4 linked regions of the Homo sapiens genome follow. The protein of the gene in region 4 interacts with the protein of the main gene of each other region in a pairwise test. Each region holds a gene or a part of one and is shown on either strand. Other genes may lie near its edges.

Evidence for each region.
Region 1: the proteins of RPRD1B (region 4) and RASSF3 interact in binary tests that used the Homo sapiens proteins (3 or more experiments, as listed by UniProt).
Region 2: the proteins of RPRD1B (region 4) and HMG20A interact in binary tests that used the Homo sapiens proteins (3 or more experiments, as listed by UniProt).
Region 3: the proteins of RPRD1B (region 4) and CDCA8 interact in binary tests that used the Homo sapiens proteins (3 or more experiments, as listed by UniProt).

Annotation. Positions count from the first base shown.
Region 1 is NC_000012.12:64,683,484-64,690,510, reverse strand, and holds part of RASSF3 (ras association domain-containing protein 3), read right to left. Parts: intron 5,725-7,027; coding exon 5,617-5,724; intron 2,296-5,616; coding exon 2,058-2,295; intron 1-2,057.
Region 2 is NC_000015.10:77,465,876-77,472,902, forward strand, and holds part of HMG20A (high mobility group protein 20A), read left to right. Parts: intron 1-1,219; coding exon 1,220-1,432; intron 1,433-5,034; coding exon 5,035-5,167; intron 5,168-5,907; coding exon 5,908-5,939; intron 5,940-7,027. UniProt on the Homo sapiens protein: Plays a role in neuronal differentiation as chromatin-associated protein. Acts as inhibitor of HMG20B. Overcomes the repressive effects of the neuronal silencer REST and induces the activation of neuronal-specific genes.
Region 3 is NC_000001.11:37,702,496-37,709,522, reverse strand, and holds part of CDCA8 (borealin), read right to left. Parts: intron 6,272-7,027; coding exon 6,176-6,271; intron 4,083-6,175; coding exon 3,956-4,082; intron 2,546-3,955; coding exon 2,459-2,545; intron 1,202-2,458; coding exon 1,157-1,201; 3' UTR 1-1,156.
Region 4 is NC_000020.11:38,064,740-38,071,766, forward strand, and holds part of RPRD1B (regulation of nuclear pre-mRNA domain-containing protein 1B), read left to right. Parts: intron 1-1,341; coding exon 1,342-1,517; intron 1,518-7,027. UniProt on the Homo sapiens protein: Interacts with phosphorylated C-terminal heptapeptide repeat domain (CTD) of the largest RNA polymerase II subunit POLR2A, and participates in dephosphorylation of the CTD by RPAP2. Transcriptional regulator which enhances expression of CCND1.

The sequences.
Region 1 (7,027 bases), on a different chromosome or scaffold from region 4:
GAGTAAGACGCTGTCTCAAAAACCAAGGCCAGGCGTGGTGGCTCATACCTGTAATCCCAGCACTTTGGGAGGCCGAGACAGGCAGATTGCCTGGGGTCAGGAGTTTGAGACCAGCCTGGCCACCAACATGGTGAAACTCTGTCTCTACTAAAAATACAAAAGTTAGCTGGGCATGGTGGTGGGCACTTGTAATTGTAGCTACTTGGGAGGCTGAGGCAGGAGAATCACTGGAACCCAGGAGGCGGAGGTTGCAGTGAGCCGAGATTGTGCCACTGCACACCAGCCTGGGCAACAGAGCAAGACTCCGTCTCAAACAAACAAACAAAAAACAAATTTAAAAAAAAATGTATATACCATCCAAAGAACATAAAAACAAGAGTTCTAAAAGCAAATCTCTCTACAGATTAATTAAGAATTAGCGAGGCCAGGCGCGGTGGCTCACACCTGCAATCCCAGCACTTTGGGAGGCTGAGGCGGGCGGATCACAAGGTCAGGAGATCGAGACCATCCTAGCTAACACAGTGAAATCCCGTCTCTACTAAAAACACAAAAAAATTAGCCAGACGTGGTGGCGGGCGCCTGTAAGTCCCAGCTACTCGGGAGGCTGAGGCAGGAGAATGGCGTGAACCCGGGAGGTGGAGCTTGCAGTGAGCCAAGATTGCGCCACTGCACCTCCAGCCTGGGTGACAGAACGAGACTCCGTCTCAAAAAAAAAAAAAGAATTAGCGAATTAGCAGCTACAAACCAAGCAATCAGAATATAAGCTCCGGTAGCTTCAAGCACAGCTATATATGTCTCATGCTAGACACACACATACAGTGACATTGCCAATCATGTTAAAGGATTTGCCAGCCATGGGGGTAATATTTCAACAAGTCACGATTACTTTCAGATTGTACAGCTAAAGTCCAGGTGAGCAGGCAAAGAAACTGGCAGATAAAAATGCCATCGAGCTTCTCTACATTATTGTGGCACTTCCAGATGCACTGCATCGCAGGTGCCAATTTCCCTATAGATATAAGCCCCCACAATACTAAGCTTGTGACCTCTGAAGGTAGGAACCCTGGCCTGTTCATCTTTGTATTCCACAGGGTCTAGCCCCATGGTTTGTTTTTAAAAAGATGTATGCATACTCAGCAATGAGCTGGGTTTCATCCTGTGTAACTGAAGAACATTACTATCATGTCAAGGTTAATATATTTTCTTCTATAGCTACATTAGGCTTTACCGAGAAAAACCAAAGAAAGCTTAAATAGTTTATTGTACACACACACACACACACACACACACCCCGATTTCAAATCGCATGTAGTGAGTCACTGAATCACTACTGTCCACCAATGTTATCAATTTCTGGTCACTGCCTGACCTGGAATATCTCATTCTGTTTCACGCAGTAATTTAATATTTAATGTTCTCTTTCTATCCCCTGAATGTGGATATGAAGTTTTAGTCAGACCCTAGATCAAAATGTTATTCACTCATTTGATGAGCCTCTGGGGGACAGAGTACCAAAATGTCCCGGCGTAACACCAAGTGAGACAAGCTAAGGCAACAGGAGAGCCCAGGGCTGGGCCGTTTCCATCAGTACGCTGAAATGTGCTGTGATGCACATGTGCCTCCCCAGTCGCAAGATCTCAGCACACATCCACCAAACCACTCCACGTACTGATGCACATCAAATGTGGAATGTGCTATTGAAAACTTCAAACACAGAGGCACTCTTTTGTGTCCTAAAGAAAACTAAAATCAAAGCCACTCCTAACAACCACCAAAAACAGCCCCCGCCCCATCCCCCCACCAACACCACAAAATACTCGTAACTGCCAATCACATATGGATGCTTCCAAGCTCCTCAGACCCTCAACTGTCCAACTCAAAAATATGGACAGCCAGGAAGCACTAAGTGCATGCTAAGATCACCATGGCTTCCAGCATCGGACTCCAGGCTCTGACACAACTGACATGGATGAGACCCACCAGTCTTCCCTCTGCTAATGAGAACAGCAGATGCAAGTAGAAGCACAGACCATTTTCCTTTTAAGCTGGCAGCGTACCTTGGTCTTCCCTGTGACAACGCTTATAAAGTGCAAACTTGGCAGGGCTCTCAGTCACGAGAAACTTTTTGAGCAGGGCCTCGATCACTTCCCCGACAGTGTTTGTGCTGCTGATATGAAGTGTATTCATACAGCCATTGCTACTGGGAGAGAGTTTTCCAGAATTTGGAGAAGTCTGTGGAGGTTTGCAGAGTTCCATCTGTACTTTAATGAAGCCAGTGTAAATCCCATTTGAATTCTGAAGCAGGGAGAGAAGCACACACTTAGCTGGGTGGATGGTGGCACTTTAGGGAAGAAGCATATCAAAACAAAACGGGAAGGTGAAACACTCCTTTGTTCTCTTCTCTTGAGGTTTGTGGCAGAACTTCACTAAAGATTGCCCCCAAAGGAATGACCTCAGAGGGCGGTTAACACACCAGGCAAAGTGCTTCCAGAGGCAAGGTCTGCAGGGCAGATGTGGACACTGAAGAAGCCTCCTGATGCTGTGGCTGACTGCCGGCCCCAGACTCATGCCTCTGAAGCTACTGGCAAAAGGTCAGGGTCCATTTGCGAGGTTACAATCCAACGGAGCAGATGCTAGCCAAACCACAAAACTTATTAAAGCTTGGGGGATATGTCTAGGCTACAGGCTCAAAGGAAACAACATCCTCAACTGGTGACTATTATACACAAAAGGAAGGTCACAATTAGGGCTCTGAAATACTGAAGTCAACAACAAGGGGACAGTAAGAAAACAGGCTATTTTCATTCCTAGTGGCTATATTCATATGCACTGAATTACTAACTCTGCTTAAACTTTTTAATGCAGCATATATGCCATACAGCATAGAATGCATTTCGGGTCTCTTAAGCAGCATTTTAAAAAAAAATTCAATCGCTTGAAACCAGAAGGTGGAGGTTGCAATGAGCCAAGATCACGCCATTGCACTCCAGCCTGGGCGACAGAGCAAGATTCTGTCTCAAAAAAAAAAACAAAAAACAAAAACAAAACAAAACAAAAAAAAACAAATTCAAACCACTATACTTCACAGTACAGATCTTAAAAACAACTACCTTCACTGATGGTAGAATTACTATTTCTTAGTTGCCAAAAACAGTAATAACAGTTTGGTCTTCACTTTTTATTTTTATTTTTGTATTCAGTATATTTGGGGCCAGGCGCAGTGGCTCATGTCTGTAATCTCAGCACTTTGGGAGGCCGAGGCGAGCAGACCACTGGAGGTCAGGAGTTCGAGACCAGCCTGGCCAACAGGGTGAAATCCCGTCTCTACTAAAAATAAAAATAAAAAAAAATTAGCTGGGTGTGGTGGCAGGTGCCTATAATCCCAGCTACTCGGGAGGCTGAGGCAGGAGAATCTCTTGAACCCAGAGGTGGAGGTTGCAGTGAGCCGAGATTACGAGATTACGCCATTACACTTCAGCCTGGGCGACAGAGACTGCATCTCAAAAACAAACAAAAACAGTATATTTAGAAAAGATTTATTGTACTGTTTTATTAAACTGTCAAGTGTTACATATAAATGCCACAGTTAAAGTAGAACATTTAAAACTATCTTTATGGTGTGTTATTTTTCTTCCTTCCCACAAGATCAATTTTCAATCCTAATTCTCTAGTTTGTTCTTTTTTGAGACAGGGTCTCACTCTCTCACCCAGGCTGGAGTGCAGTGGCACGAACACAGCTCACTGCAGCCTCAACTTCCTGAGTTCAAGTGATCCTCCTGCCTCAGCCTCCTGAGTAGCTGGGACTGCAGGCACCCGCCACCATGCCTGGCTAATTTTTCTATTTTTAGGAGAGATGGGGTTTTGCCATGTTGACTAGGCTGGCCTTGAACTCTTTTTTTTGAGATGGAGTCTTGCTCTGTCGCCTAGGCTGGAGTGCAGTGGCACGATCTTGCCTCACTGCAAGCTCTGCCTCCTGGGTTCACGCCATTCTTCTGCCTCAGCCTCCCGCGTAGCTGGGACTACAGGCGCCCGCCACCACGCCTGGCTAATTTTTGTATTTTTAGTAGAGACAGGGTTTCACTGTGTTAGCCAGGATGGTCTCGATCTCCTGACCTCGTGATCTGCCCACCTCGGCCTCCCAAAGTGCTGGATTACAGGCGTGAGCCACCGTCGAACTCTTGACTTCAAGTGATCCACCCGCCTCAGCCTCCCAAAATGCTGAGATTACAGGTGTGAGCCACTGTGCCCAGCCTAAAATTTTTATCTTTAAAATGACATGGATAATTTGTATCTGTTTTAGTCTCTATCAGGAAAGGAAAAAAAAAAAACATAGCAAGTGGATTTCTCCTTTGATGAAAAAATGTGTTTGAAAAAGAAATCTTGCTGCTGGAATGATGAAGAGTTATCTTGGGATTCTCTGCTCCTCTCCCCTCTTTTTGGAGGAGTTCTACCAGGGAGGGGTCCTTTACCACAAGGGTTTCTATCTGAAAGCTCCTCCCCAAGAATCACCGATTCGGTAGGGCCTGTTTTAAACCAATCACCTTGTCCTTTACCAAACTCTGTCAGTTCACAGTAAACAGACTGAGAGACGGGGATCCAAGTGCCCTGGAAACTGGCGCCAAGGGCTGACAAGTGCCATGAAGAAGGCGGGCCACCCAATGGGTAGGCGAGACCTAGATGCCAGCTAAGTTTAGAGGAACATGAATACTCTAGCTCCGCTGTCAGCTCGTTTCCCTATCCCCAGGCCCTGAGGCTTCTCCCTCCTGTACGCCGACTCCCTGCATGCTTCAGTGTGGCACAATGCTGTGGAAGCCTGCGACAGCGACGTGGAAGAAACTGAGTATTAAGTACCTTGTCTTACACTAACGACCGGCAGAGAAAACTATCCTATTATATACCTCTATATTCCAATCCATGGGCTCAAAATCCTTTCCCTGACACTTCCATATTTATTTTGTACAAGACAAAAACTTAGGGGCTTCTGATACCTGTAATCCCAGCACTTTGGGAGGCCAAGCTGGGCAGATCCCTTGAGCCAAGGAATTTGAGATGAGCCTGGGTGATATGGCAAAACCCCGTCTCTACAAAAAATACAAAAATTAGCTGGGCATGGTGGCAAGCACCTGTGGTCCCAGCTACTCGGGAGGCTGAGGTGGGAGGATTACTTGAGCCCGGAGGTCGAGGCTGCAGTGAGCGGTGATCGTGCCACTGCTCTCCAGCCCAGGTGACAGAGCAAAACCTTGTTTCAAAACAAAACAAAACAAAAAACCTTACCTGAGGTCTTCTTAGAATCTGAGTCACCATTTCTGTATGTTAGGCAATGATGCTAAAAATCCTTTGAGGAGGGAGGGGTGGGTCACAAAATCTTTTAAAATAAAATTATAAGTGTTTCACTTTTTTAAGGTTAACCCAGCAACTGATTTTTGAGACAAAGCTACTTCACAATACAGATTTAAATGGAAAGCCACAGAAATATTCCACTTTCCTGTTCTGTATACCTTGACTACTACACTTCTACAAATGCTATTCAGATATTTAGAACTATAGATTGTAGTACCAACAATTTATATTTGTCTTTTGACAGGTGTCAACCTAAATAGTATTTTGAGTGCTTACCAAGGTCATCTTCAACTTGTCTGTGACTGCTAAGTTGTATTTATGAACTTTCTCTTTGATCTCCTCTTTGCTGAGGTAACTGTGGGTTTCCTTCTCTTTCTCAACATCCTAGAAGAAAAACAAGACATGTCACATGTGAGCAATCATAAAAAAAAGTGCGGATAGGCCGGGCGCAGTGGCTCACGCCTGTAATCCCAGCACTTTGGGAGGCTGAGGTGGGCGGATCACCTGAGGTTGGGAGTTCAATACCACCCTGACCAAAATGGAGAAACCCTGTCTCTACTAAAATTACGAAATTAGCTGGGCATGGTGGCGCACGCTTGTAAACCCAGCTACTTGGGAGGCTGAGGCAGGAGAATCACTTTGAACGTGAGAGGCAGAGGTTGTGGTAAGCTGAGATCACGCCATTGCACTCCAGCCTGGGCAACAAGAGCAAAACTCTGTCTCAAAAAAAAAAAACAAACAAACAAACAAACAGATAAGTCAGGATTTTTTAAAAATTCCACACAAGGGCCGGGCACGGTGGTGGAAGCCTGCAATCCCAGGACTTTGAGAGGCCAAGGACGGCAGAGCTTAAGCCCTGGAGATTGTGACCAGGCTGGGCAACATGAGGAAACTCTATCTCTACAAAAAATACAAAAATTAGCTGGGCACAGTGGTGCACACCTGTAGTCGCAGCTAGTTAGGAGGCTGAGGTGGGAGCATCACCTCAGCCCAGAGGTCGAGGCTGTAGTGAGCCATAATTATGCCACTATGCTCTAGCCTGGGTGACAGAGTGCGACCCTGTCTCAAAAAAAAAAAAAAAAAAATTACAACCACACAAGAAGAACCTTATTGTTCTTGCATGTTACCTTGAAACACACACACACACACACACACACTCACTCTCTCTCTCTCTCTCTCTCCTTCTCTCCCTCGCTGCTTCTCTTTCTCTCTTACCTTCAAACTCTCCAGGCTCATCCACCAATTACGGTTCTCATTCTTTCATACTACAGTCTTCCTAGGGGATATATTTTTTAAGAAAACTAATTTGTCAGCAGCTACAAGTAACACTTCATTACCAATATATTCTGCAAAACTGTCATTGCTAAATTTCCCTTCTGCAAAAACATCATTTCCTCAGCATGCCTGCTAGATTGGCCATTTCTATTTTAAACAACATTTAAAGACATTTACCACAAGTTTCTCTTTAGCAACTTGTATTAACTCTGTTGTCTTTATAGCTTTACAATATTTATTGGCAAAAAGTACAGCAGTTAATCAGTATTAACTGGCACTATTCACGGACTCATACTAATCACTGACCTGTAAACTGTACACAACTACCAGAGGATAATTCATCTTCCAAACAAATCCCCAGGCCAAGATACAAGTAGCCAGACTTCTCCTTCCCACCCTTCCAGTCTCACCC
Region 2 (7,027 bases), on a different chromosome or scaffold from region 4:
ATCCATGAAATATTAACTGATACGGCTGTATTTGTAAAATTATGAAGTAAAAATATTATGTACCTTACATCTTATTTAAAGGGCCAAGAAGAAAGGCTGTGGTGAAACATCAGTGGTACCTCAGTCCTTTTCATTTCTTTAGTTTTTTTCAGAGGTGATTCAATCTTTTGATTTACCTGGTAACTCAACATATAAAGACCTCTGACTATAAAATGTACATCTAGGCCGGGTGCAGTGGATCACGCCTATAATCCCAGCACTTTGGGAGGCTGAGGCTGGTGGATCACCTGAGGTCAGGAGTTCGAGACCAGCCTGATCAACATGGCAAAACCCCATCTCTACTGAAAATACAAAAATTAGCTGGGTGTGGTGGCACATGCCTGTAATCCCAGCTACTTGGAAGACTAAGGCAGGAGAATCACTTGAACCTGGGAGGCGGAGGTTGCGGTGAGCCGAGATAGCGCCATTGCACTACAGCCTGGGCAAGAAGAGCAAAACTCTACCTCAAAAAAAAAATTAAAATAAAATGTACATCTAAAGGAACAAATTGTCAAGCCAAAGAGCTCGTCTTCATTTCAGATATATTATACTTACTAAAATTTTTCTGAGACTTAGATATTAATTTAGTATCTATCTGCTATGCTATGCTATCTGCTATCTGCTATGGGAAATAAGCTAGTCTTTGAAAGTTATCAATGAGCAACTCCCATTGTGAGTTATTTTTAATTTCTGCTACAACTTGTTTCTTCTTTTGCCTGGTGCACGTGACACCATCTTACTCTAATCTGACAATGTCTGCCTCCCTGCCACAATGCTGCATGTGCTGCTGTATTTCCCATTTGGATACTCTCCTGTCAGGAATCAGGACCTGACAGTTGTCTGTGGGACAGTCATATGCATATGAAGGTCAAAGCTGAGTGATCATGGCACCTCTTATTCTCATACATTGAGATTAGCACAAAAATAGCCCTTTAGTGTAACATTTTGTAGTGTGATACATAAAAGAGGTTGCAAGTGAAGCATCTGGAGTTCCTCAAAAATTGCATTGCTGTCATTTGTATATTACCTACAACAGATGTGGAGAGCTTTGAATATCCAGGGCCAAATTGCAACTCTTAATCCTGTTTTGTTTGTTGTTGTTTGTTTTTGTTGTTGTTGGGTTATTTTGGGAGATGGTTGTTGTTTGGTTTTTGGTTTTTTATTTTGTTTTGTTTTGTAGCAACGAAGTAAACGAGGAGGTTGGTCCAAAGGAAGAAAGAGGAAGAAACCTCTTCGAGACAGCAATGCACCCAAATCCCCCCTTACAGGATATGTTCGGTTCATGAATGAGCGTCGAGAACAACTTCGAGCAAAGAGACCAGAAGTCCCATTTCCAGAAATCACAAGGATGTTAGGCAATGAATGGAGTAAACTGCCTCCTGAGGAAAAACAGGTAATTGTTCCTATTCCTGACTCTTTGTTTGGTTTTGATTATATCTCAGAAATAACTTATATAAGAAAAGCAAAGAGGATGGACAGTTGATTCTGCAGTTTTGTCACAGTGCCTAGGAGACCAGAATAGCAGGGTCCATCATAGCAATTTTCTCTAGCCTAGTGATTTTTAAACTATTTGCTAGAGGGGTGTGAGCAGGGAAGGAGTCTAGGACTCCCCTCAACCAAAGCAACACCACTTTTTATACGCTGAGTTCACATAAGATTGTTTTAAGTGGTTCAGTATTAAGAAATCTGTCAATAAAATGTATTCCACTGAGTTAAATGAAAAGTCGTGAATTAAATGAGAAAAAGTCACTTGACACAATTCTGCAGTTCACATAAGATTTTTAAGAAAAAATGTTACTGCTTTAATACTTTTTTTAACTAGAGTTCTGGCAAATTAACCTACTATTGAAAATAAAGCAAGAACAACTTGAATTCTTTCTCCTCTAAGACAGAAACTAACCTGATGGGCAAACTGAAATGAATCCGTTCATTAGAGAGATTTGAAAGGAATTAAGGACAAGATAGCCATGAGCTGGTTGAAGTACCACTAAAGCTGAGCAGTGGTCATGGTTGTGGGAGCTGCTTTGGGTTAAAAGTTCCCAGCATTCCCAGCATCTGAAAGATATCTGTATTTCTTTTACGTCTTAAACTCTTTTATGACTTACACTTTTTAAAAAGGATTCCAGACACACTAAAACCAAATGGAGAAATACTCTCCTGGGAATTAATTGAATTCAGAAATTTTCAAAGAGATCAGATTCAGTTGCAACTTTTGAAGCTCTGTGTTTGTGGTAGCAAGCTAGTAGAAAGCAGTGAATATCATCCATTGTTTTGGCGCTACTGTATAAAAGGATAGTGGGCTGTACATACTATGCTATTCTTTTCTTTTTTTTCTTTATTTTAAAATTAATATGTGCTCATTATTCTCTTTTCAGAGAATACAGAAATGTATAAACAAAAATGTAAAAATAACAGTGCTTATTTCTTGGGATAACCACTATTACGTAGGACAAAGGTTTTGTGTTTGTTTTTGTTTTTTTAACTTTTTTTGGAAATAATTTCAAATACACAAAAAGTTACAAACATAAAAATAATACAAAGAACATCCCAACACTCTTTACCCAGATTCACCTATTGTTAACACATTTTATTCCATTTCTCCATTTGCATATGCACTTATATGCTCAGTCTTTCTTATACTTTTGCATGCTCAGTCTTTCTCTCTCTCTCTCTCTCTCTCTGTCACACACACACACACACACACACACACACTTGCATGTGTACACCCAGACACACACAAAATTTTGTTTTAATCATGTGAGGATAAATTATATACATTGTAGCCCTTTACCCCCAGGATATTTCAGTGTGTATGTCAAAGAATATTTTCTTATATAACCATAGTGTAGTCATCAATTTCATAATTTTTCATTAACAGTGCTTTAATCTGTCATCTATATGTTGACTGAATGTCATTTCTTTATAACATTTTTCCCTTCCAAAACAGGTTCCAGTCTAGGGTCAGGTTTTGTGTTTAGTAGTCAAGTTTCTTTAGCTTAAACTGGGATATTTCCATAATCTTTCTTTTTCTTTTATAACATTGATATTTTTTTAAAATACAGTTCCCTTCTGCTTCCCCCGCTGCTTTTACCTTTAACAGAACATTGCTCATTGTGTATTTTTCAGATGTTTCCTTGTGATTAGATTGAGGTTGCGCATTCTTGGTGGGATTACTTGCATAGGTGGTGGTGTGTTCTCAATATGTCACATATGCAGGCACACAATGTCCTTTTGTTTCTCACTAGTAATGTTAATTTTGCTTACCTGGTACATTATTTAAATTCTCCTTTGTCATTAATAAGTAATCTATGGGGAGACGATTTAAGAACATACAAACAGCCTGTTTTACATCAACATTTTCCCCTAGATTTAGCATCCATTGATTATTTTTGCCTGATTTAATCTTTATCATTATGGTTACAACGTGATGATTTTTCCAACTCCAGCACTCCCTTTACATTTACCAGGTAGCCTTCAGCATTCTAATCTAAGCAAGATCTTGGCTTACTGCAACCTTGACCTCCTGGTCTCAAGCACCCCTCCCACCTTAGCCTCCTAAGTAGCACACACCACCAAAACTGGCTAATTATTTTATGTTTTGTAGAGATGGGATCTCACTTTGTTGCCTAGGCTGGACTCAAACATCTGGGCTCAAGCAGTCCTCCTCTTGCCTTGGCCTCCCAACATCCTGTGATTACAGATATGAGCCACCATGCCCGACCCCCTACCCCCATTTATTTATTTGTTTGTTTGTTTGTTTGTTTGTTTTTTGAGATGGAATCTTGCTCTGTCGCCCAAACTGGAGTGCGGTGGCACACTCTCGGCTCATTGCAACCTCCACCTCCCAGGTTCAAGCGATTCTCTAGCCTCAGCTTCCCAAGTAGCTGGGACTACAGGCGTGCACCATCACACCCAGCTAATTTTTGTATTTTTAGTAGAGATGGGGTTTCAGCATGTTGACCAGTGTGGTCTTGAACTCCTGACCTCAAGTGATCCACCCACCTCGGTCTCCCAAAATGTTGGGATTACGTGCGTGAGCCACCACGCTCAGCCTCTACACCCATTTATTGTATTTGTATGGTAACAAATCATTGGTATTGTGTCTGTTATAAATCATACTAATAATAGTATGAAGTTTTTTCTACTAGTTTATAATTTATTACTGTACTTAATTATTTTGGTGCTTAAATTGTACCAGATTTGGCCAGTTGAGTATCCCCTACATCTGGCTCTTACGCGGGACAAAGTGTTTAACATAATTTCTGAGTGTGTTTTCTGTTCATTTAGAAGCAGTATTTTTATACTTTCTTATACTTCATTTTGATGAATGAAAAGGGCAAAGCATTAAACAAAATAATCCTGGTAGATCAATGAACTTTGTTTAAATAATTAATAGCACAAAGCAATCAAAGCATGTAGATATAGGTTCTCTCAGAGTAGTCCATTTTTAGGTCCATAGGATGAGGTCATTATTTTTATGTTCTTTGTGTCTCCCAGCTTCATTGCTCCAACCTCCTGGCTCTTAAAGGGCCAATTGATGTATGACATCATCCCCTCAAAATGGGCTGGAGACAGCAAAACAAAGTAATATTCTGTTCCTTCCCTTGGGAAGACTAAGTGTGCCTATGTGGTGTGCACATCTCATGAGGATGACTCTAGTGGCCATATAGAGTTCTATCTATAGAGTTAGAAGAATAACTCTAATCATCTTCATGAATTTTTTATAAGAATGATCTCAATAGAACTTGTCTTCATTAGGTTAGAAAAGGCAATAAATATTCTAAAAACTCATAATGACCTATTTACTTTTATAATTGAGAGGTTATATTTTATTCTATTCATACAACTCTTGTTTTTCTGATTCTTTTTTAAGGCATATTCCCTATATTCTTTTCTTCCCATGTTCTAATTGTCCTGTTTTCTTCAAATAGGTAATTTAATTTTATTTAAATAGGATCTCATTTTCTTGAAAATAATTCTGTATTTCTTTCCTAGCGCTACCTTGATGAAGCAGACAGAGATAAGGAGCGTTACATGAAGGAACTGGAACAGTATCAGAAAACAGAGGCCTACAAGGTCTTCAGTAGGAAAACCCAGGACCGTCAGAAAGGCAAATCTCATAGGCAAGGTATCAAAACCAGAACCAAATGTATTTGTAGTTTGTTGTGGGTGATGGAGTGTCATAAAGCCAACTGTTAAGAGTGGTAACTATAAAAGATGTGTTTCTGTTTTTTCTCCACTATCCAGTATTCACTTACAAGCATTATCTTGAAATTTTATTAAAATCACATTGCTCTCATTTAGAAATTTCAACTGGGTTTCCGTGTCTATTATCAATGATTTTGACTTGTCCTCCGAGACCCCTGTTAGTTGCCTGCCCTTCTTTTCCTGATTCCCAGTTTAGGCATTTCTCTGCCTGTAAGCAAGCCTATCTACAAAATTATATCAGTAACTTCCCTTTAACACTTCTAAGCCTTTCATGTGTCATTTTTGAAGCACCATCCACAACTAGCCTATTTTTCCTTAGCCATTGCATCTTCTCTATACTTGGGCATCTAGCCTGCTAAAATTATAGATGTTGTATAAGTAGTCTTTGGTTTGTGTCTTCTGTCCACTCTTCCACCCTTTTCTCCCTAAAGTTAAGAACTGTGTCTGCTGTTTCTCTTATGCCTAATTATGAATTCTGTAGGCATGGGGTTCCCTTACTTTTGTTGGCTGACCGATTAATAAAGCCTTAAGGAAAAATATCATATGTTATGAGAATCTACATATACAAGCAGGTTTTATAGTTTGGCAGAGTCGTATACTTGGGTTTTGTTATTGCTTTCTTTTTAAATGTAATGTTCTCTTATTCTTTTATATTTTTAGATGCAGCCCGGCAGGCCACTCATGATCATGAGGTAATTAGCCATCTGTCTACATATCATATATATGTATTTATAATAATGTTGCTTTTTGAAATGCTATTGGATTTTTTTTTTTTTAATGAATGGCAAAGTATTTCCTATCTCGTAATTCAGATTAAATGAGATACTTTAGCTTGGGGGTTCTTAGCATATGGCAGACACTTACGTTGTGTGTCTGTCATTGAACTACAGCCCCTAACCTCAATCCTTTCCTGTGATCTGAGAATTTTATTGGCTTTAAATGCCAAAGATGGCTGGAATTTGGAATGAAGTATAGAAATGAGGGCTAGCTGAAAGCTATAACATGACCATAGTTTATCATCACCAAATACTTAAATCTGACTCTCAGAAAAGTTGTTATTTAAAGAATCCAGCATTTGCTTAAAGCGAACTGTTCAACTACAATGTCGATAGAGCACAAGCGACAGTATCTCAGGTTTGTTTTTTGTTTTGTTTTGTTTTTTGTTTTTTTGAGATAGAGTCTCACTCTGTCGCCCAGGCTGGAGTGCAGTGGCACAATCTCAGCCCACTGCAACCTCCGCCTCCCGGGTTCAAGCAATTCTCCTGCCTCAGCCTCCCGAGTAGCTGGGACTACAGGCTCGTGCCATCATACCCGGCTAATTTTCTGTATTTTTAGTAGAGACAGGGTTTCATCATATGAGCCAGGATGGTCTCGATCTCCTGACCTCATGATCCACCCGCCTTGGCCTCCCAAAATGCTGGGATTACAGGCGTGAGCCACCACGCCCGGCCCAGTATCTCAGTTCTCACACCTCCTTTCCTATTCCCTCACTTCACTAGCACATGTTTGTGTACTGGCTTCTTTCCTCCCACTTGGTTCAGCCCCATTGTTAGGATTTAGGCCTGTGTTTCTGTGTGTGTATGGGATTTAGGTGTGTGTGTTGTTTCAAATTCTGTTTTCTCCTTCAAACTTTTCTTGTTTCCTCTAACTTCCTTTAACCCTCATGGCTCTCTATACTTGTGTTATGTGCTTAGCTGATCTGACCTAGGGGTTTTGAGGTAATTCAAGGGCTCACACTCTTTGGTTGTAATGTCTTTGTGGACATACACAGTCTAGTTTC
Region 3 (7,027 bases), on a different chromosome or scaffold from region 4:
CCACAGAGAGCCCTACATGAGAAAGCCATGTGCCTTCAAGCCTGGGGATGAGGACTCTAGTTCTCAAATTCTTAGAACATAGCACATGATTCTCCAGGGCAGAGAGGCTGGCTGGAGAATGAGGACCTCACTGCTGACTCTGCTTAACAAAGTCCATGCCCCAGGCACAGGCACACATGGAATGAGGCCACCAAGCAAGTCACACCCACCCCTGTTCCCATGAACCCCATAAGAGAGAAGTGCTCTCTGAAGTCTACAGACTTGGCAGGGACCACTGGACCATGGATAGCTTAGAGACAGTTATTCTGTGGCCAATGACATAAAACCTCCAGAATCTGGGCCCTACAGTTCCCTTATCCAAATTTCCACTAACTAGGGAGGTAGAAGAGCAAGACATGGAAGTTGTCTCCAAACCAGTATTTGGTCTTCAGTAAACAGGGATAAACATAAAACACTGCTCCACAAGCAGACTTCAGAACTACTGGGCACAGCAGGTGAAAGATCCCTAAGTCCCACTGACCACCTCCCACAGGAGGAGGAGGAGGAGGAAGAGGAGGGCTGGTAGGGGGAGGTGTCATGAGTGCGAGAGGGTAGACGGACATGTTCCCTACTGAGGTCACTGCTGCCAACTGTCCTGCTCTGCTGATCTGTACAGTTCCCCCCACCTTCTGGACCTACCCTCTCATGGCCCAGAGCTCACTTATCTGAGCCTAAACCTCCCGGTCTCAAGCATAGAGAGCAGAAATGCCAGATGCAGAGGTTCTCTGGGTAGCGGTGGTGGAGGCAGTCTTCCTGAGAACACAGGGTTCTTCTTCGCCCCCTCAACTGCAGGCAGGGCAGGGTGAAGAGGATGTTGAGTTGCAGGAGGCAAAAGGCAGCAGCTCAGAGAGCAGGGAGGATTCAGCTGGGAGACTGATGGGAAGCTTCCATGGCATGGCCCCAGCAAGCAGTGACTGGGATCAGCTGGGATGGGAGGGTGAACAGACAGCTCTACCTAACTGGTGTGGGACTAGCACGTCTGAATTCCTGAATTCCCTTAGAGGAACATGGCTCCTTGCTCTGGAACTTCACACTCAAACAATAAGCCTGAAGGGAAGAAGTCTCTTCAGGGTCCCAGAAGTGCCCATTAAAAGTCCATCCTGTCAACTTTGGTGTCTCATTTGTGGGTCCGTATGCTGCTGCAGATTTGGGCGAGACGGTTCTAAAAAGAAAAGGAGAGAGGTCATTGTAGAAGATGTCACTTGGCAGGCTTGCCCCTTGGCCTCCCACAGTCAGCCTGAGCCCCTCCATTCTCTATCTGTATCACACATGAATTCACCTTTCTGAACCTGTTTCTCATCTGAACAAGGGAGTAAAATAACAACTCAAGTGAGACAGTAAAGGTATCATAGATTTGAGAAGAACATTGCAATAGATCTAGCTAGAGGATGACAGTCACAAGATTTGGGTGGCTAGGTGTGTGTGGGATCTCAGCACTGGGCCTATGTTCAGAAAGACAGGTTTAGGAAACCAGCCCCGCCTTGTCCCCTTCCTTGGATGTACCCTTCAGACCCCACAGAAGGATGAGGGTAAGGTTGCCATGTTTACACTAAGTGCTTCATCCACCACCCAAGATGATGGCTGACCAGACCAAGGAGGTTCATCCCTGGCGGAGCCATTACATTCTTCAGTTAAATTAAATTGATAATTTACTTTATTTTTAGAGCTGAGGTCTTTCTCTGTCACCCAGGCTGGAGTGCAGCAGCACGATCATGGGTCACTGCAGCCTTGAACTCATGGGCTCAAACAATTTCTCTCACCTGAGCCTCCTGAGCTGCAGGGATTACAGGTGTGTGCCACTGTGCCTGGCCCTCTTCAGAATTTAAACCAAGACAAGAAATTGAACAATTGGGCAATAGAGCAATAAAGTTGGGATTGGAGGTGTGGTTACTCAAAGCCACATGCAAAACAATGTTAAGTAAGCACAGAACCTGGAGCCTGTGGAGAAGGTTATCTGCTGAGGGAGGAATGAAGATGTGTGAGAGAAATGAGCACACAGGCCCCAGCTGATGGGCCCCACCACTCCAGAGGCTTGGCCGTTCAGCTCGCTCTTTGATTCTGTAAGATTCCTGATAACAAGCCCCGACCCTCATTCTTGAGCTACTCTAGGTTTCACTTTCTGGTGGCCAATAGTGACCTAACATACCCCTAGCACTAACTGCCTGAATGAGGCAGAATTTTGATTTTGCAGTGGAACTTCTGTGGCAGGCACCCTGGGATTGAACAAAACTCAACATCAACTGAGGAACAGAACTGCTGCTATCTAAGTAGGGTAAGAGTCAAAATCTCTTGGGGGAAGGAAGACAACACAAATTTAAGTAGAAAGTATTAGCCCAGGCCCAAAAGACAATCCTAAATAAAGGTAGCCCAAGAAAGCTACTGGAGGCATCCTATGTGTGGAGATGAATATGAGACTTACGGAGAGCTTCTTAATGTTTCCCAAGGCCTCTGGATCCAGCTGGGCAATACTGTGCCTCTGCAAGTCACTGGCCAATAATCGCAGGCTCTGAATAGAAAGGGGAGTGGGTTAAACTGGCCATGGCCCTTAGGGCCGGAACCCCTAGGTTCCCCTGATATCCTGCACTTAGTGGTGGGGAATGGCTGGGATGGAGAAGTGGCAAGACAGGCAGGAAGGATATTAGCTCTAAGGAGACAATGACTTCATCAGCACTATCACTAGGGTGGAGGCTGGATTACCTGGGCACAAAAGGCACGCACATCATCTAAGAAATGCCCTGCAGAGTATGTCTGAAACAAACCGTCCTCCCCTCACAGGGGCTGAGGTCAGCAACTCGCTCCATGCAGCCCAGAGACACTGAGCTCAGCTTGCTTCAGAATCCCTTAAGTTATACAAAGCTGAAGGCACAGCTCATGGTCCGGGTTCTAGACTAAGCGCATACCTCGGTGGTGCCCTCCTCTGCACCACCCTTTAACATCTCTATTATTGCGCATATCACAGGTACCATGATTGCAAACCCATCTTGACCACTGAGCTGCTTTCTAAGGGCAGGCCCCATGTCTACTTCTTGGGCCTACTACAATCGGATGGGCAAATGTTAGTTGATGAACAGATGGAGGCCGGGTGTGGTGGCTTGCACCTGTAATCCCAGCACCTTGGGAGGCTGAGGTGTGTGGATCACCTGAGGTCAGGAGTTTGAGACCAGCTTGACCAATATGGTGAAACACCATCTCTACTAAAAATACAAAAATTAGCCGGGTGTGGTGGCATGTGCCTGTAGTCCCAGTTACTCAGGAGGCTGAGGCAGGAGAATCACTTGAACCTGGGAGGCAGAGGTTGCAGTGAGCTGAGATCGTGCCACTGCACTCCAGGCTGGGCGACAGAGTGAGACTCCATCTCAAAAAAAAAAAAAAAAAAGGTGGGCACGGTGGCTCATGCCTGTAATCCCAGCACTTTGGGACGCCGAGGAGGGCGGATCACGAGGTCAAGCAATCGAGACCATCCTGGCCAACGTGGTGAAACCCCCATCTCTACCAAAAATACAAAAGTTAGCTGGGCATGATGGCGTGTGCCTGTAGTCCCAGCTACTCAGGAGGCTGAGGCAAGAGAATCGCTTGAACCCAGGAGGCAGAGGTTGCAGTGAGCCGAGATCGCACCACTGCACTCCCGCCTGGTGACAGAGCAAGACTCCATCTCAAAAAAAAAAAAAAAAAACCCACAAAAAACAAAAACAAAACCAAAAAACAGAAAAACAGAACCCAGAGCTGAGCAACGATCTTTGCAGTCTGGGCCTCTAACCTGGGAGAGAAAACTGGGTTCTGAGTCCCGCAGAAGTGTGGAGATCAGGACCCACGCACTGAAAGGACTCTGAGGGTGAAGCGTGGGTGAGGGCCCAGGGAAAAGAAATGCTTGACTAAGCAGCACACTGTGGCCTGGCTTCCCTTGGAAATACTTCACCTCTCCGCCGCCCACTGGCACAGTGAGGAAGATCTCTTTGCTGTCAGCAAGAGGGCTGCCATTCCCTGAGATGTTGTAAATCCGCTCTCCTGCTGCTGGAGTACGCAGGCCAGGGGTCTTGAAGACCCTAGAATGGGAAAATCTCTGTGAAGATAGCTTGGCAATTGGATGACACCAAACTCTATAGGCCATTTTAACCTTACTCTGGCCTCAAGTTGCAGTTTTTAAGTCATACATTCCTAAGAAAGCACGTTCTAAATTTAGAAAAAAAAAATGTTTTAAAGCAGTAATGACTAAACACAGCTGGAGAAAGAAGGTTGTAATTATTGAACATACATCTTACAAAAAGCCAACTCTTATCCACATAAAGTTTAGGTCCAAAGCTCCATATGGGTGCCATCATCCATCCATCCACAAAGCCAGAAATACGCTGGTTAATTGTTTCCAGGCGTGGCTGCTTCCATCAAGAGGAATTTTTCAGAGGCAAAGGAGGATGATTTAGATATTACATCATTATACTAATTTCTCAAGACAGTTAAAATACTGCTACCTAGTTTTCCCTAAATGCCTTTTGTTACATATTCATGTGAGAAAACAAACAGTAAAGAAAAGTGGGAACTGGCTGAGTGCCGTGGCTCATACCTGTAATCCCAGCACTTTGGGAGGCCGAGGGGGGTGGATCACCTGAGGTCAGGAGTTCGAGACCAGCCTGGCCAACATGGCAAAATCCTGTCTCTATTAAAAATACAAAACTTAGCTGGGCATGGTGGCATGTACCTATAATCTCAGCTACTCAGGAGGCTGAGGCAGGAGAATTGCTTGAACCTGAGAGGTGGAGGTTGCAGTGAGCCGAGATTGTGCCATTGCACTCCAGCCTGGGTGACAGAGCGAGACTCCGTCTCAAAAAAAAAAAAAAAAAAAAAAAAAAAAAGTGGCAATTAAAAGTAGAAAATAAATCTTCAACACTTCCCCACACCAGAGATAACCACTTCTTGCTCTCCTCCCCAGGGGTAACCACTCTGAATTCCTTATCTATCCTTCCAGAAACTTTGTATGTATATAAAACCAAATGGGATCATACAGCACAGTGTTCAGCAACCTGCTCGGAGATGCTCTGTGATCACGGTGCTCTTTCCCTGTCAGCACACACAGATCCAGTCTTTTTTAATGGCTATACAGCATCTCCTATTTGGTCAACTAGGTTCTTTGGAAGGTATTAACTTATGCTGCAAGAATATCCTCGCTTATGCCAGCCTCCAAAAAAGCAGTATCAATTTTTACTTCTACCAAGAGTACAGGAGAGTGCCTACTCATCTTTAAAAAACTGATTTGAGGCCGGGTGTGATGGCTCATGCTTGTAATCCCAGTACATTGGAAGGCCGAGGTGGGCAGATTGCTTGAGCTCAGGAGTTCGAGACCAGCCTGGGCAACCTGGCGAAATCCCATCGCTACAAAAAAACAAAAAATTAGCCAGGCATGGTGGCATGCTTGGGAGCTAAGGTGGGAGAAGCACTTGAGCCCGGGAAGTCAAGGTTGCAGTGAGCCGTGATTGTGCCACTGCTCTCCAGCCTGGGCATTGGAGTGAGACCCTGCCTCATAATAAATAAATATTTTAAAAATAAAATAAAAACCTTCTGATTTGAATCAGAAAAGGCCAAAAACGTCACCTAGAGGCCTCCTAGTCATCACAGGCAGAATATTCACCTCCCTCCCATTAAAGAATCATTTTGCCACTGAAGATAGGTGAAACTACACTTAAGGGAGAGGCATACACCAGGAAACCCAGCTGGCCACTGTCCTCTGACAAGGCATCCCAGGCCAAGGACTCGGGACTATTTTCTTTTCTTTTCTTAAGACAGAGTCTCACTCTGTTGCCCAGGCTGGAGTGCAGTGGTGCAATTGCAGCTCACTGCAACCTCCACCTCCTGGGTTCAAGCAATTCTCCTGTCTCAGCCTCCTGAGTAGCTGGGATTACAGGCGTGCACCACCACACCCAACTAATTTTTGTATTTTTAGTAGACGCAGCGTTTCATCATCTTGGCCAGGCTGGTCTTGAACTCCTGACCTCAAGTGATCCGCCTGCCTCGGCCTCTCAAAGTGCTGGTATTACAGGCGTGAGCTACCGTGCCTGGCCTAGGAGTATTTTCTTAGACACTCCTTCTCTGGGTAGTGCTCAATGTTGGAGTCCCATCAAATCCAAGTGTTTCCCTCGATACTCACCTTGAGTCAAACCTGGGTGTCAGGCCTGGAGTTGGTTTGACCATGGACACCTCCAATCGGCCCACGGCTGGGGTAACAGTGTTAGCACGGCTTGACCTACAGGTAAGAAATGGCCATCAGGTATGCCAACTCTCAGGTTCCACGAAGGCAGCAGCAGAGGAGTGACACGTGGAGAGCTGACTGTGAGATACTGCTCCGGGCGCCTCGCACACATCGACTCACGTGACCCTTCTAACACGGGAGGCCAGCACTGCTGCCATCCTCATACACAGATGCAGAAACTCAGGTGCATCAAGTTTTAAAAACTTGCCCAAGATCACATATCCAATTAGGATGGAGCCAAAACTTTGAACCAAAGTAGTCTGCCTCCAGAATCTGACTTTTTTTTTTTTTTTTGAGACGGAGTCTTGCTCTGTTGCCCAGGCTGGAGTGCAATGGCGTAATCTTGGCTCACTGCAACCTCCACCTCCTGGGTTCAAGCGATTCTCCTGCCTCAGCCTCCCGAGTAGCTGGAACTACAGGCATGCACCACCACACCTGGCTAATTTTTGTATTTTTAGTAGAGACAGGGTTTCACCATGTTGGCCAGGCGGGTCTCAAACTCCTGACCTCAAGTGATCCACCTGCCTTGGCCTCCCAAAGTGCTGGGATTACAGGTGTGAGACACCACACTCAGCCTCAGAATCTGACTTTTTAATCAAGGAGACAGCCTCTTCATGCGAAGGCTCCCCCAGCTGGAATTCTGTCCTTGTGCCAGGCAGCTGCTGCACTGCTCAAGAGAAATGAGTTCGCTCCTCCACAGACATGCATCCCGGTGACTACTCTCCTAAGCTGCTGTACCTTCCCCCACAT
Region 4 (7,027 bases):
CAGTCTGGTAGCTAATGACCAACAGTTTTTGAAAAATGGAATAAAGCCATCCTGGCTAACACAGTGAAACCTCGTCTCTACTAAAAATACAAAAAAATTAGACGGGCGTGGTGGCGGGGGCCTGTACTCCCAGCTACTCGGGAGGCTGAGGCAGGAGAATGGCATGAACCTGGGAGGCGGAGCTTGCAGTGAGCCGAGATCATGCCACTGCACTCCAGCCTGGGTCACAGAGCAAGACACCATCTCAAAAAAAAAAAAAAGAGATAAAATAGAAGATAGAGCACACATAGTAAGAATGGGTATTTTATGAAACGCTGCTTTCATTTTTCTGTGTATTTACATAAGTGTATTTCTGCTGTGGGTCATGTTCAGAAACATTTAAAAACCTCTTTCTTATCAGACTTTACATTTTGTCAAATGTAGGAAGAAGTTCATCCCCACGTCCAAGGCTTACATAGTTTAAGAGATAGAGTGCTATAGATCATTTTAGAGATCTGGCTTCGAGCCCCAGCATCTCAGCTCACTGCATATAGAAACCTGTCATGTAGTTTTTTTTCTGGCGGGGAGGGGGTCTTAGTTCCCACACCCAATAAATAAGTGCATGCTATTTTTTATTCCAGTGGAAAGTAAAAAGACTACTTAATGAAATATAGTGGTCCCTCCATATCCATGGGGGTTTGGTTCCAAGACCTTCTGAGGATACCAAAATCCAAGGTTGCTCAAGGCCCTTAAATGGTGTCGGATTTGTCTATAACCAACAAACATCTTCCCATATACTTTAAATACTCTCTAGATTACTTATCATAGCTAATGCAATGTAAATGCTATGTAAATAGTTGTTATTCTGTATTTTTAAAATTGGGTTTTTAATTGTTATTTTTATTGGTTTGTGGGGTTTTTTGGTCTGAGTATTTTCCATTCATGGTTGGTTGAATCCACAGATACAGAACCCACAGATATAGGGGCCAACCGTAATATAAATGAAAGCACTTGCAATTCTCAGAGACAAGGAACGATTTTTTCACAGGTGATCTTCAATATCTCTTTATGCTTGTTTTGTCAGGAGAGCTTTTGCAGGAACAGGCATTTAGAAAGCCTTTGCCAGATTCCCCCCATGTACAGCTTCCTCACTTCAGGTAATTGAGTAGTGTCCTGTCTTGTTGACAGAGTGAATGCCTTTGGATTTCTTGCTTAATCAACTCATTGTTTGTCCACAGGTGCTGGCTTATTCTCAGACTCTGTATATTGGGAGAGAAACCGTTAACCTCCCCCAGAAATGTTTGTAGTCATACCTGTGTGATTTGTATATTTTCTCTATTTTTTGGTCTCATTTGTACTTAGACAAAGAGGCAGCTGAACGTCTTTCAAAAACAGTAGATGAAGCATGTCTGTTACTAGCAGAATATAACGGGCGCCTGGCAGCAGAACTGGAGGACCGTCGCCAGCTGGCTCGGATGTTGGTGGAGTATACCCAGAATCAGAAAGATGTTTTGTCGGAGAAGGAGAAAAAACTAGAGGTGAGTGCATTGAAGGCAGACCCAGACTGCCCACGTTTCCCTTCCTGTAGCCCACATTAGGAGGTTTTTATTATGCTTTAATTAACAACATTTTTATCGTTTAAAAATTCATGATGTGAATTCTGAACATCCATCAGATACTGTAATTATTTGAGCCCAGTTAAAAATTGAAGTCATGTTCTTATATGTCCAGGACAGAACAAACTGGATTGTAGGAAACAAACAGTGAACTCTTAATCACAGCCTTAGGATCTTAATATTGCTTTCGTTTGAACTCATGTTTTTAAAAAAATTACGAATTGAGGTACAAAAAGGATAGCAAATCAGTGAAAACCAAAGAATATGTTTGGTAGTATTTGGGAAGTGCTGAAAAATGTTTCTTTCAAGTCATTTGGAGGTTTATTTCTTTTTTTTTTTGAGACGCAGTCTCGCTCCGTCGCCCAGGCTGGAGTGCAGCGGTGCGATCTCGGCTCACTGCAAGCTCTGCCTCCCAGGTTCACGCCATTCTCCTGCCTCAGCCTCCCAAGTAGCTGGAACTACAGGCGTCCACCACCACGCCTGGCTAATTTTTTGTATTTTTAGTAGGGACGGGGTTTCACCATGTTAGCCAGGATAGTCTTGATCTCCTGACCTCATGATCTGCCCACCTCAGCCTCCCAAAGTGCTGGGATTACAGGTGTGAGCCACCGCGCCCAGCCGTTTGGAGGTTTATTTCTGACTTTATCCATGCTGCGGCCAAGAAGTTGTCTGCCTCCAAGATCTATCTGTAATTAGCTCTTAAATGTCACAGTAGTATTTATATAGCACAGTTCTCAAACTGTAAAAGACCTCATTTCTACCCTGGGTTGAGGACATTAGTCTGAGTGACCTTGGGGAGGGAGTTCAGAAACATTTCCTCACCATACACTTGTTTGGCTTCGTAATTAAGTACATGGTAGTTTACCCTCAGTACTTGCTCCCGTGGGATAACAGAGCCAGCAGTGTGGATTTTTGGGAACTTTGCTGCCCCGGGCTGCTGCACTTCCTTTTCAGGAATGTCTGCTCTTCTTTTTTTAAGAGATATGGAAAAGAGTTGCAGCCAGTGGTTTTGTGAAGGAGGACACTTCTGAGTTAGAGAGCCAGTCATGTTGTATTTCAAGAAATACTTCTTAAATCCCACTCAGAGTAGACAAGGGACAGGGAGAGCCATGTCACCTCCATGCTCAGGAAACGTGCTCTGGCACAGAAGGAGGGAACATTGAGCTATCTCTGAGGCTGAGATCATTGTATTTGCCTTTCAGCATGGTCATCTGACTTGAGGGGAAATGAGTGGCAGGCACTTTTTACCGTATCCTTACCTGCAGTGATTCTGGGAACTGTGTTGCGTAGTGGTAGCAGGAACTTCACATTCGTAGCCTGCTTGAATGTGGAAGATGGGAAAGGGCTGTAAAAATCCTACAGCTTAGATTTAGACATCGGCACTGACCAGAGATCCTAAAGGGAGTTTTACAGGCAGTACCAGACGGTCATTTATCTGAAATGCTCATCTTTCACTGAGGAAGCATTTTCAGCACTGTGCCCCGGGACTAATAAGAGAGTGTAATTAATGATTCTGGTTGTAAGTCACCATGCCATCTGTTGAACTGCCCCTTGGCGACACATTAAGGGCTTTCTCTGATCTGTCAGACATTGATTATCATGAGCAGCTGTTGTTGGGTAGAACGTGGCAAGCAACCATAGAGGACAGAGTCTTTGAGGAGATCGGGTTGGTAGAGCTGGTTAACTCTTTGTTCTGTTTTCCCTCCCCACAGTTGCACTCTGCTCTGTATATTGTTGGGGAATCATTCTGGTTTTTGTAGAACTAGTGGTTTGCTGGACGCCACGAGAGGGCATTAAGGTGGAGAAACAGATTAGAGCTTTGGATGCGTTCTGTAACTTTCCAGTCTGCGTTGCTCTGCGCGGTTCATTCAGTGGAATGGGGCTGGCATTCCATTGCTGAAGAAGCGGAACAGAAAGGCCCCACCACTGGAACCAACGTACAGAGTCTGAACTGAAGGTTCTTATCTCAAACCATGTCTCCGAGGCACATGAGCAGAACCATTTATTGTAAAAAATAGAGCCGATTTGCTGCATTAAAGAAAGCAAATGACTAGATACAGTATAAGGTTTTTTTCTGAGATGGAGTCTCGCTCTGTCACTCAGGTTGGAGTGCAGTGACGTGATCTCAGCTCACTGCAGCCTCCACCTCCCAGGCTCAACCAATCCCCCGTCTCAGCCTCCTGAGTAGCTGGGATTATAGATTATAGGCATGTACTACCACGCCCGGCTAATTTTTTTTGTTTTTAGCAGAGACAGAGTTTCACCATATTGGCCAGGCTGGTCTTGAACTCCTGACGTCAAGTGATCTGGCCGCTTCACAATATAAGATTTGAGAGATGGTTTTAGTTCTTTTCTTTATCCACGCTTGCTAAAAATTTAGGCAGTCTGCTCTCCTGAACCTAAGATTTTTCTCTCACATTCTGTAATAGACTGGTCCTGTCCCATCACATCCCTATGGTGGTGGCCGAACTTGATAAATGTATGCCCCTTGAAAGATGCGTGAATACTGTGAATTCCTTCAGATTGTCCAAAAGTCTCTCTGCGTGATGGGGCAGTACATAAAGTTTACCCACTTTTTTAACATTCATTTTTGTAACACAGCCAGTCCGTTTTAAAACTTCCAAATCAGAATGCTAATTAAATATTTTATTTTTTAATCCTTTCATTGCCTTCAGGATATACATAGATGAAATTCTCAGAACTCTTTGGAGAAGTAGTTATTTGCTTGCGAGTCTGTTTTCATCCCAAAGCTCTAATATACTTAGGTTTTGTGCTTTCCTTTTTAACTTTGTATCTTGCTTTATGTAATAAGCATCTTTTTCTCTTTCACTTGGGAATTTTATGTCGGTGGCTCCTGCATGTCAGGATAGGGCGTGTGATGATTCAGAGCCTAGGATGTAGGAGAGGGAATTACGGCTCAAAGTAGGAGATTGTGTTTCTTCCCTCGAGGAAATCATATTCTGGTATAAAAAACACAGGTGAACATAAAACCAAACCACTTGATCGTACATAATGTAGATTAAGGAGGCATTTGGCGGTTCTGATTGTGGTTTAAGGTAAGTCCAAACTTCCTGTCAGGCAATAAAACCTTTTTGTAAAAGGAACTAGCAGTTGAAGAAGAGAAGCATGTTTATAAATGGGGAGCAGTTAGACTGGACCAGACAGGTATCTGAAGAAAGACAAAGTCAGATGTGGGAAGGAGGTGCTGCAGACCACCAGTGGGAGATTAAGGTCTGTGCTCTTTAAGAAGCTACGTATTCATTCAGGGAGTCAGCAAAGCCTGTGCCAGCCAGATGTACAAAGATGGGCACGATGCACTTCTCCCCTCAAAGGGCTTATGCTCTAGTCAGGGGGAAATAGCAGCAAACAAGGGGTTAGGGTAGAATTCAAGATAGGTTGTCAGTAAGGAAAATATTCTCACTTGTGTCTACCTTGAAATAGACCAAGAAAAAAATGAAGATGCTAATAATAATTTGATCAGATGCTTATTAAAATTGTGAGAGTTATCAAATCATGGACAGTTTCTGAAACTGTAATGCCTTCAGCAGGTCTCCCAAAGTTTGCTAGACTGTATACTCTTTGAGTGCTCTCACAGTGCCAGGAACATATTTGTTCCTCAGTAAATACTTGTTCTGTGAAATCCATCACTTGATGTAACCTTTTTCTATAGAGAAAAGGGTTTTTTTTTAAGGTTGCATTAAAAGTGGCTTAACAAATCTGATTTAATGATTGGTTGTAAAGAATATGTTAGTACGGAAAGGTAACCATTTTTAGAAGTTTCTGTAGGTTTTCTCCTTTGTACTACTTTTCTTTTTTCCTTTAAGTAGAATTATGCTTTATTCTGAGATAATCATCTTTTTTTGTTTGTTTGTTTTTGACTTTTGCTTCAGGGTGTCATGATTGACTTTGGCCTATGATGTTGGCCCTTAAACACCAGGCAAGGGTGGAAGGAATGCTGCTGAAAATCTGTGGGTAATGTTTTTGTCATGAACATGAGAAAACCTAGAAATGGAGAAGGCACGTGGAAGGAAGCACAAATGGCAGCCCAAAGAGGAGGTTAGAGAATGTGGAGGGTATAGAAGAAAGCCCATTCAGAAAGGCAAAGGCCAAAGATACCAGAAAAGCCTTCCAGCTTCACTTCCAGAGCAAAGAGAAGCTTTGTTTGTGGTTGACAGAGGTGACTACATTACTCCCAGATGTCTGCTCAAAGCTCATAAGACATAGCGTGAGTGGGTTGGATAGGGTTCCTGTCTTGTCAGCGTGAATAAAGCATGATACAGACATGTTCTGTTAGCATGATCAGTGCATGTGGAAGAGTGTGTGTGTGAGAAAGAAACCTATTTGTACAAGTATTAAGGAAAGAAAAAAGGTCAGGAACCTGCAGTTTTCCCTTCTTAACTGTGATTTTTTTTTTTTTTTTTTTGAGACAGACTCTTGCTCTGTTGCCCAGGGCTAGAGTGCAGTAGAGCAATCTGAGCTCACTGCCTCCCGGGTTCAAGCGATTCTCGTGCCTCAGCCTCCCGAGTAGCTGGGACTACAGGCGCATGCCACCACACCCAGCTAATTTTTGTATTTTTAGTAGAGATGGGGTTTTGCCATGTTGGGCAGGCTGGTCTCGAACTCCTGATCTCAGGTGATCCACCTGCCTTGGCCTCCCAAAGTGTTGGAATTACAGGCATGCGCCTCCATGCCTGGCCTTAACTGTGAATTTTATTCAGATCATGGTGTCTGACTGTCAGCGATCTAGAACTGAAAGCAGATAGTCCTGTGTTGACCCACATGCCACATGGTGCACACACACAAAGATGATATGCCACACAGGGAAGAGCTCTTGAGAAATTTGTTCCAAGCTGCAGATTTATTGTTTTAGTTGAGGTGAAATTCATATAACGTAAATTAACCATGCACTTCAAAGTGCACACATTTTGGTGGCATTTAGTACGTTCACAGTATTGTATCAAGTTCCAAAACATAATTGTGTCTGGCTTCTTTCGGCACGATGTTTTCAAGATTCATCCCATGTTGTAGCATATATCAGTACTTCATCTCTTTTATGGTAGAACACTAATCTGTTGTATGGATGTGACACAGTTTATAACCTGTCTATGGACATTTGAGTTGTTGCCACCTTTTGGCTCTTATGAATAGTGTTGCTATAAACAGTCATGTGGAGGTTTTTGTGTGGCCATATCTTTTCATTTCTCTTGGTTATGTATAAATCTAGGAGTGGAATTGCTGGGTCATATGGTAATTCTATGTAACATTTTGAGGAACCATCAGACTGTTTTCCACAGCAGCTACATCATTTTACATCCCCACTAGCAATGTGCGTGGGTTCCAGTTTCTCCACATCCTCATCAACATTTGTTATTGTCTCTTTATTTTCGACAACCTACATGTGCAGGTTTATCTCATTGTGATTTTGATTTGCA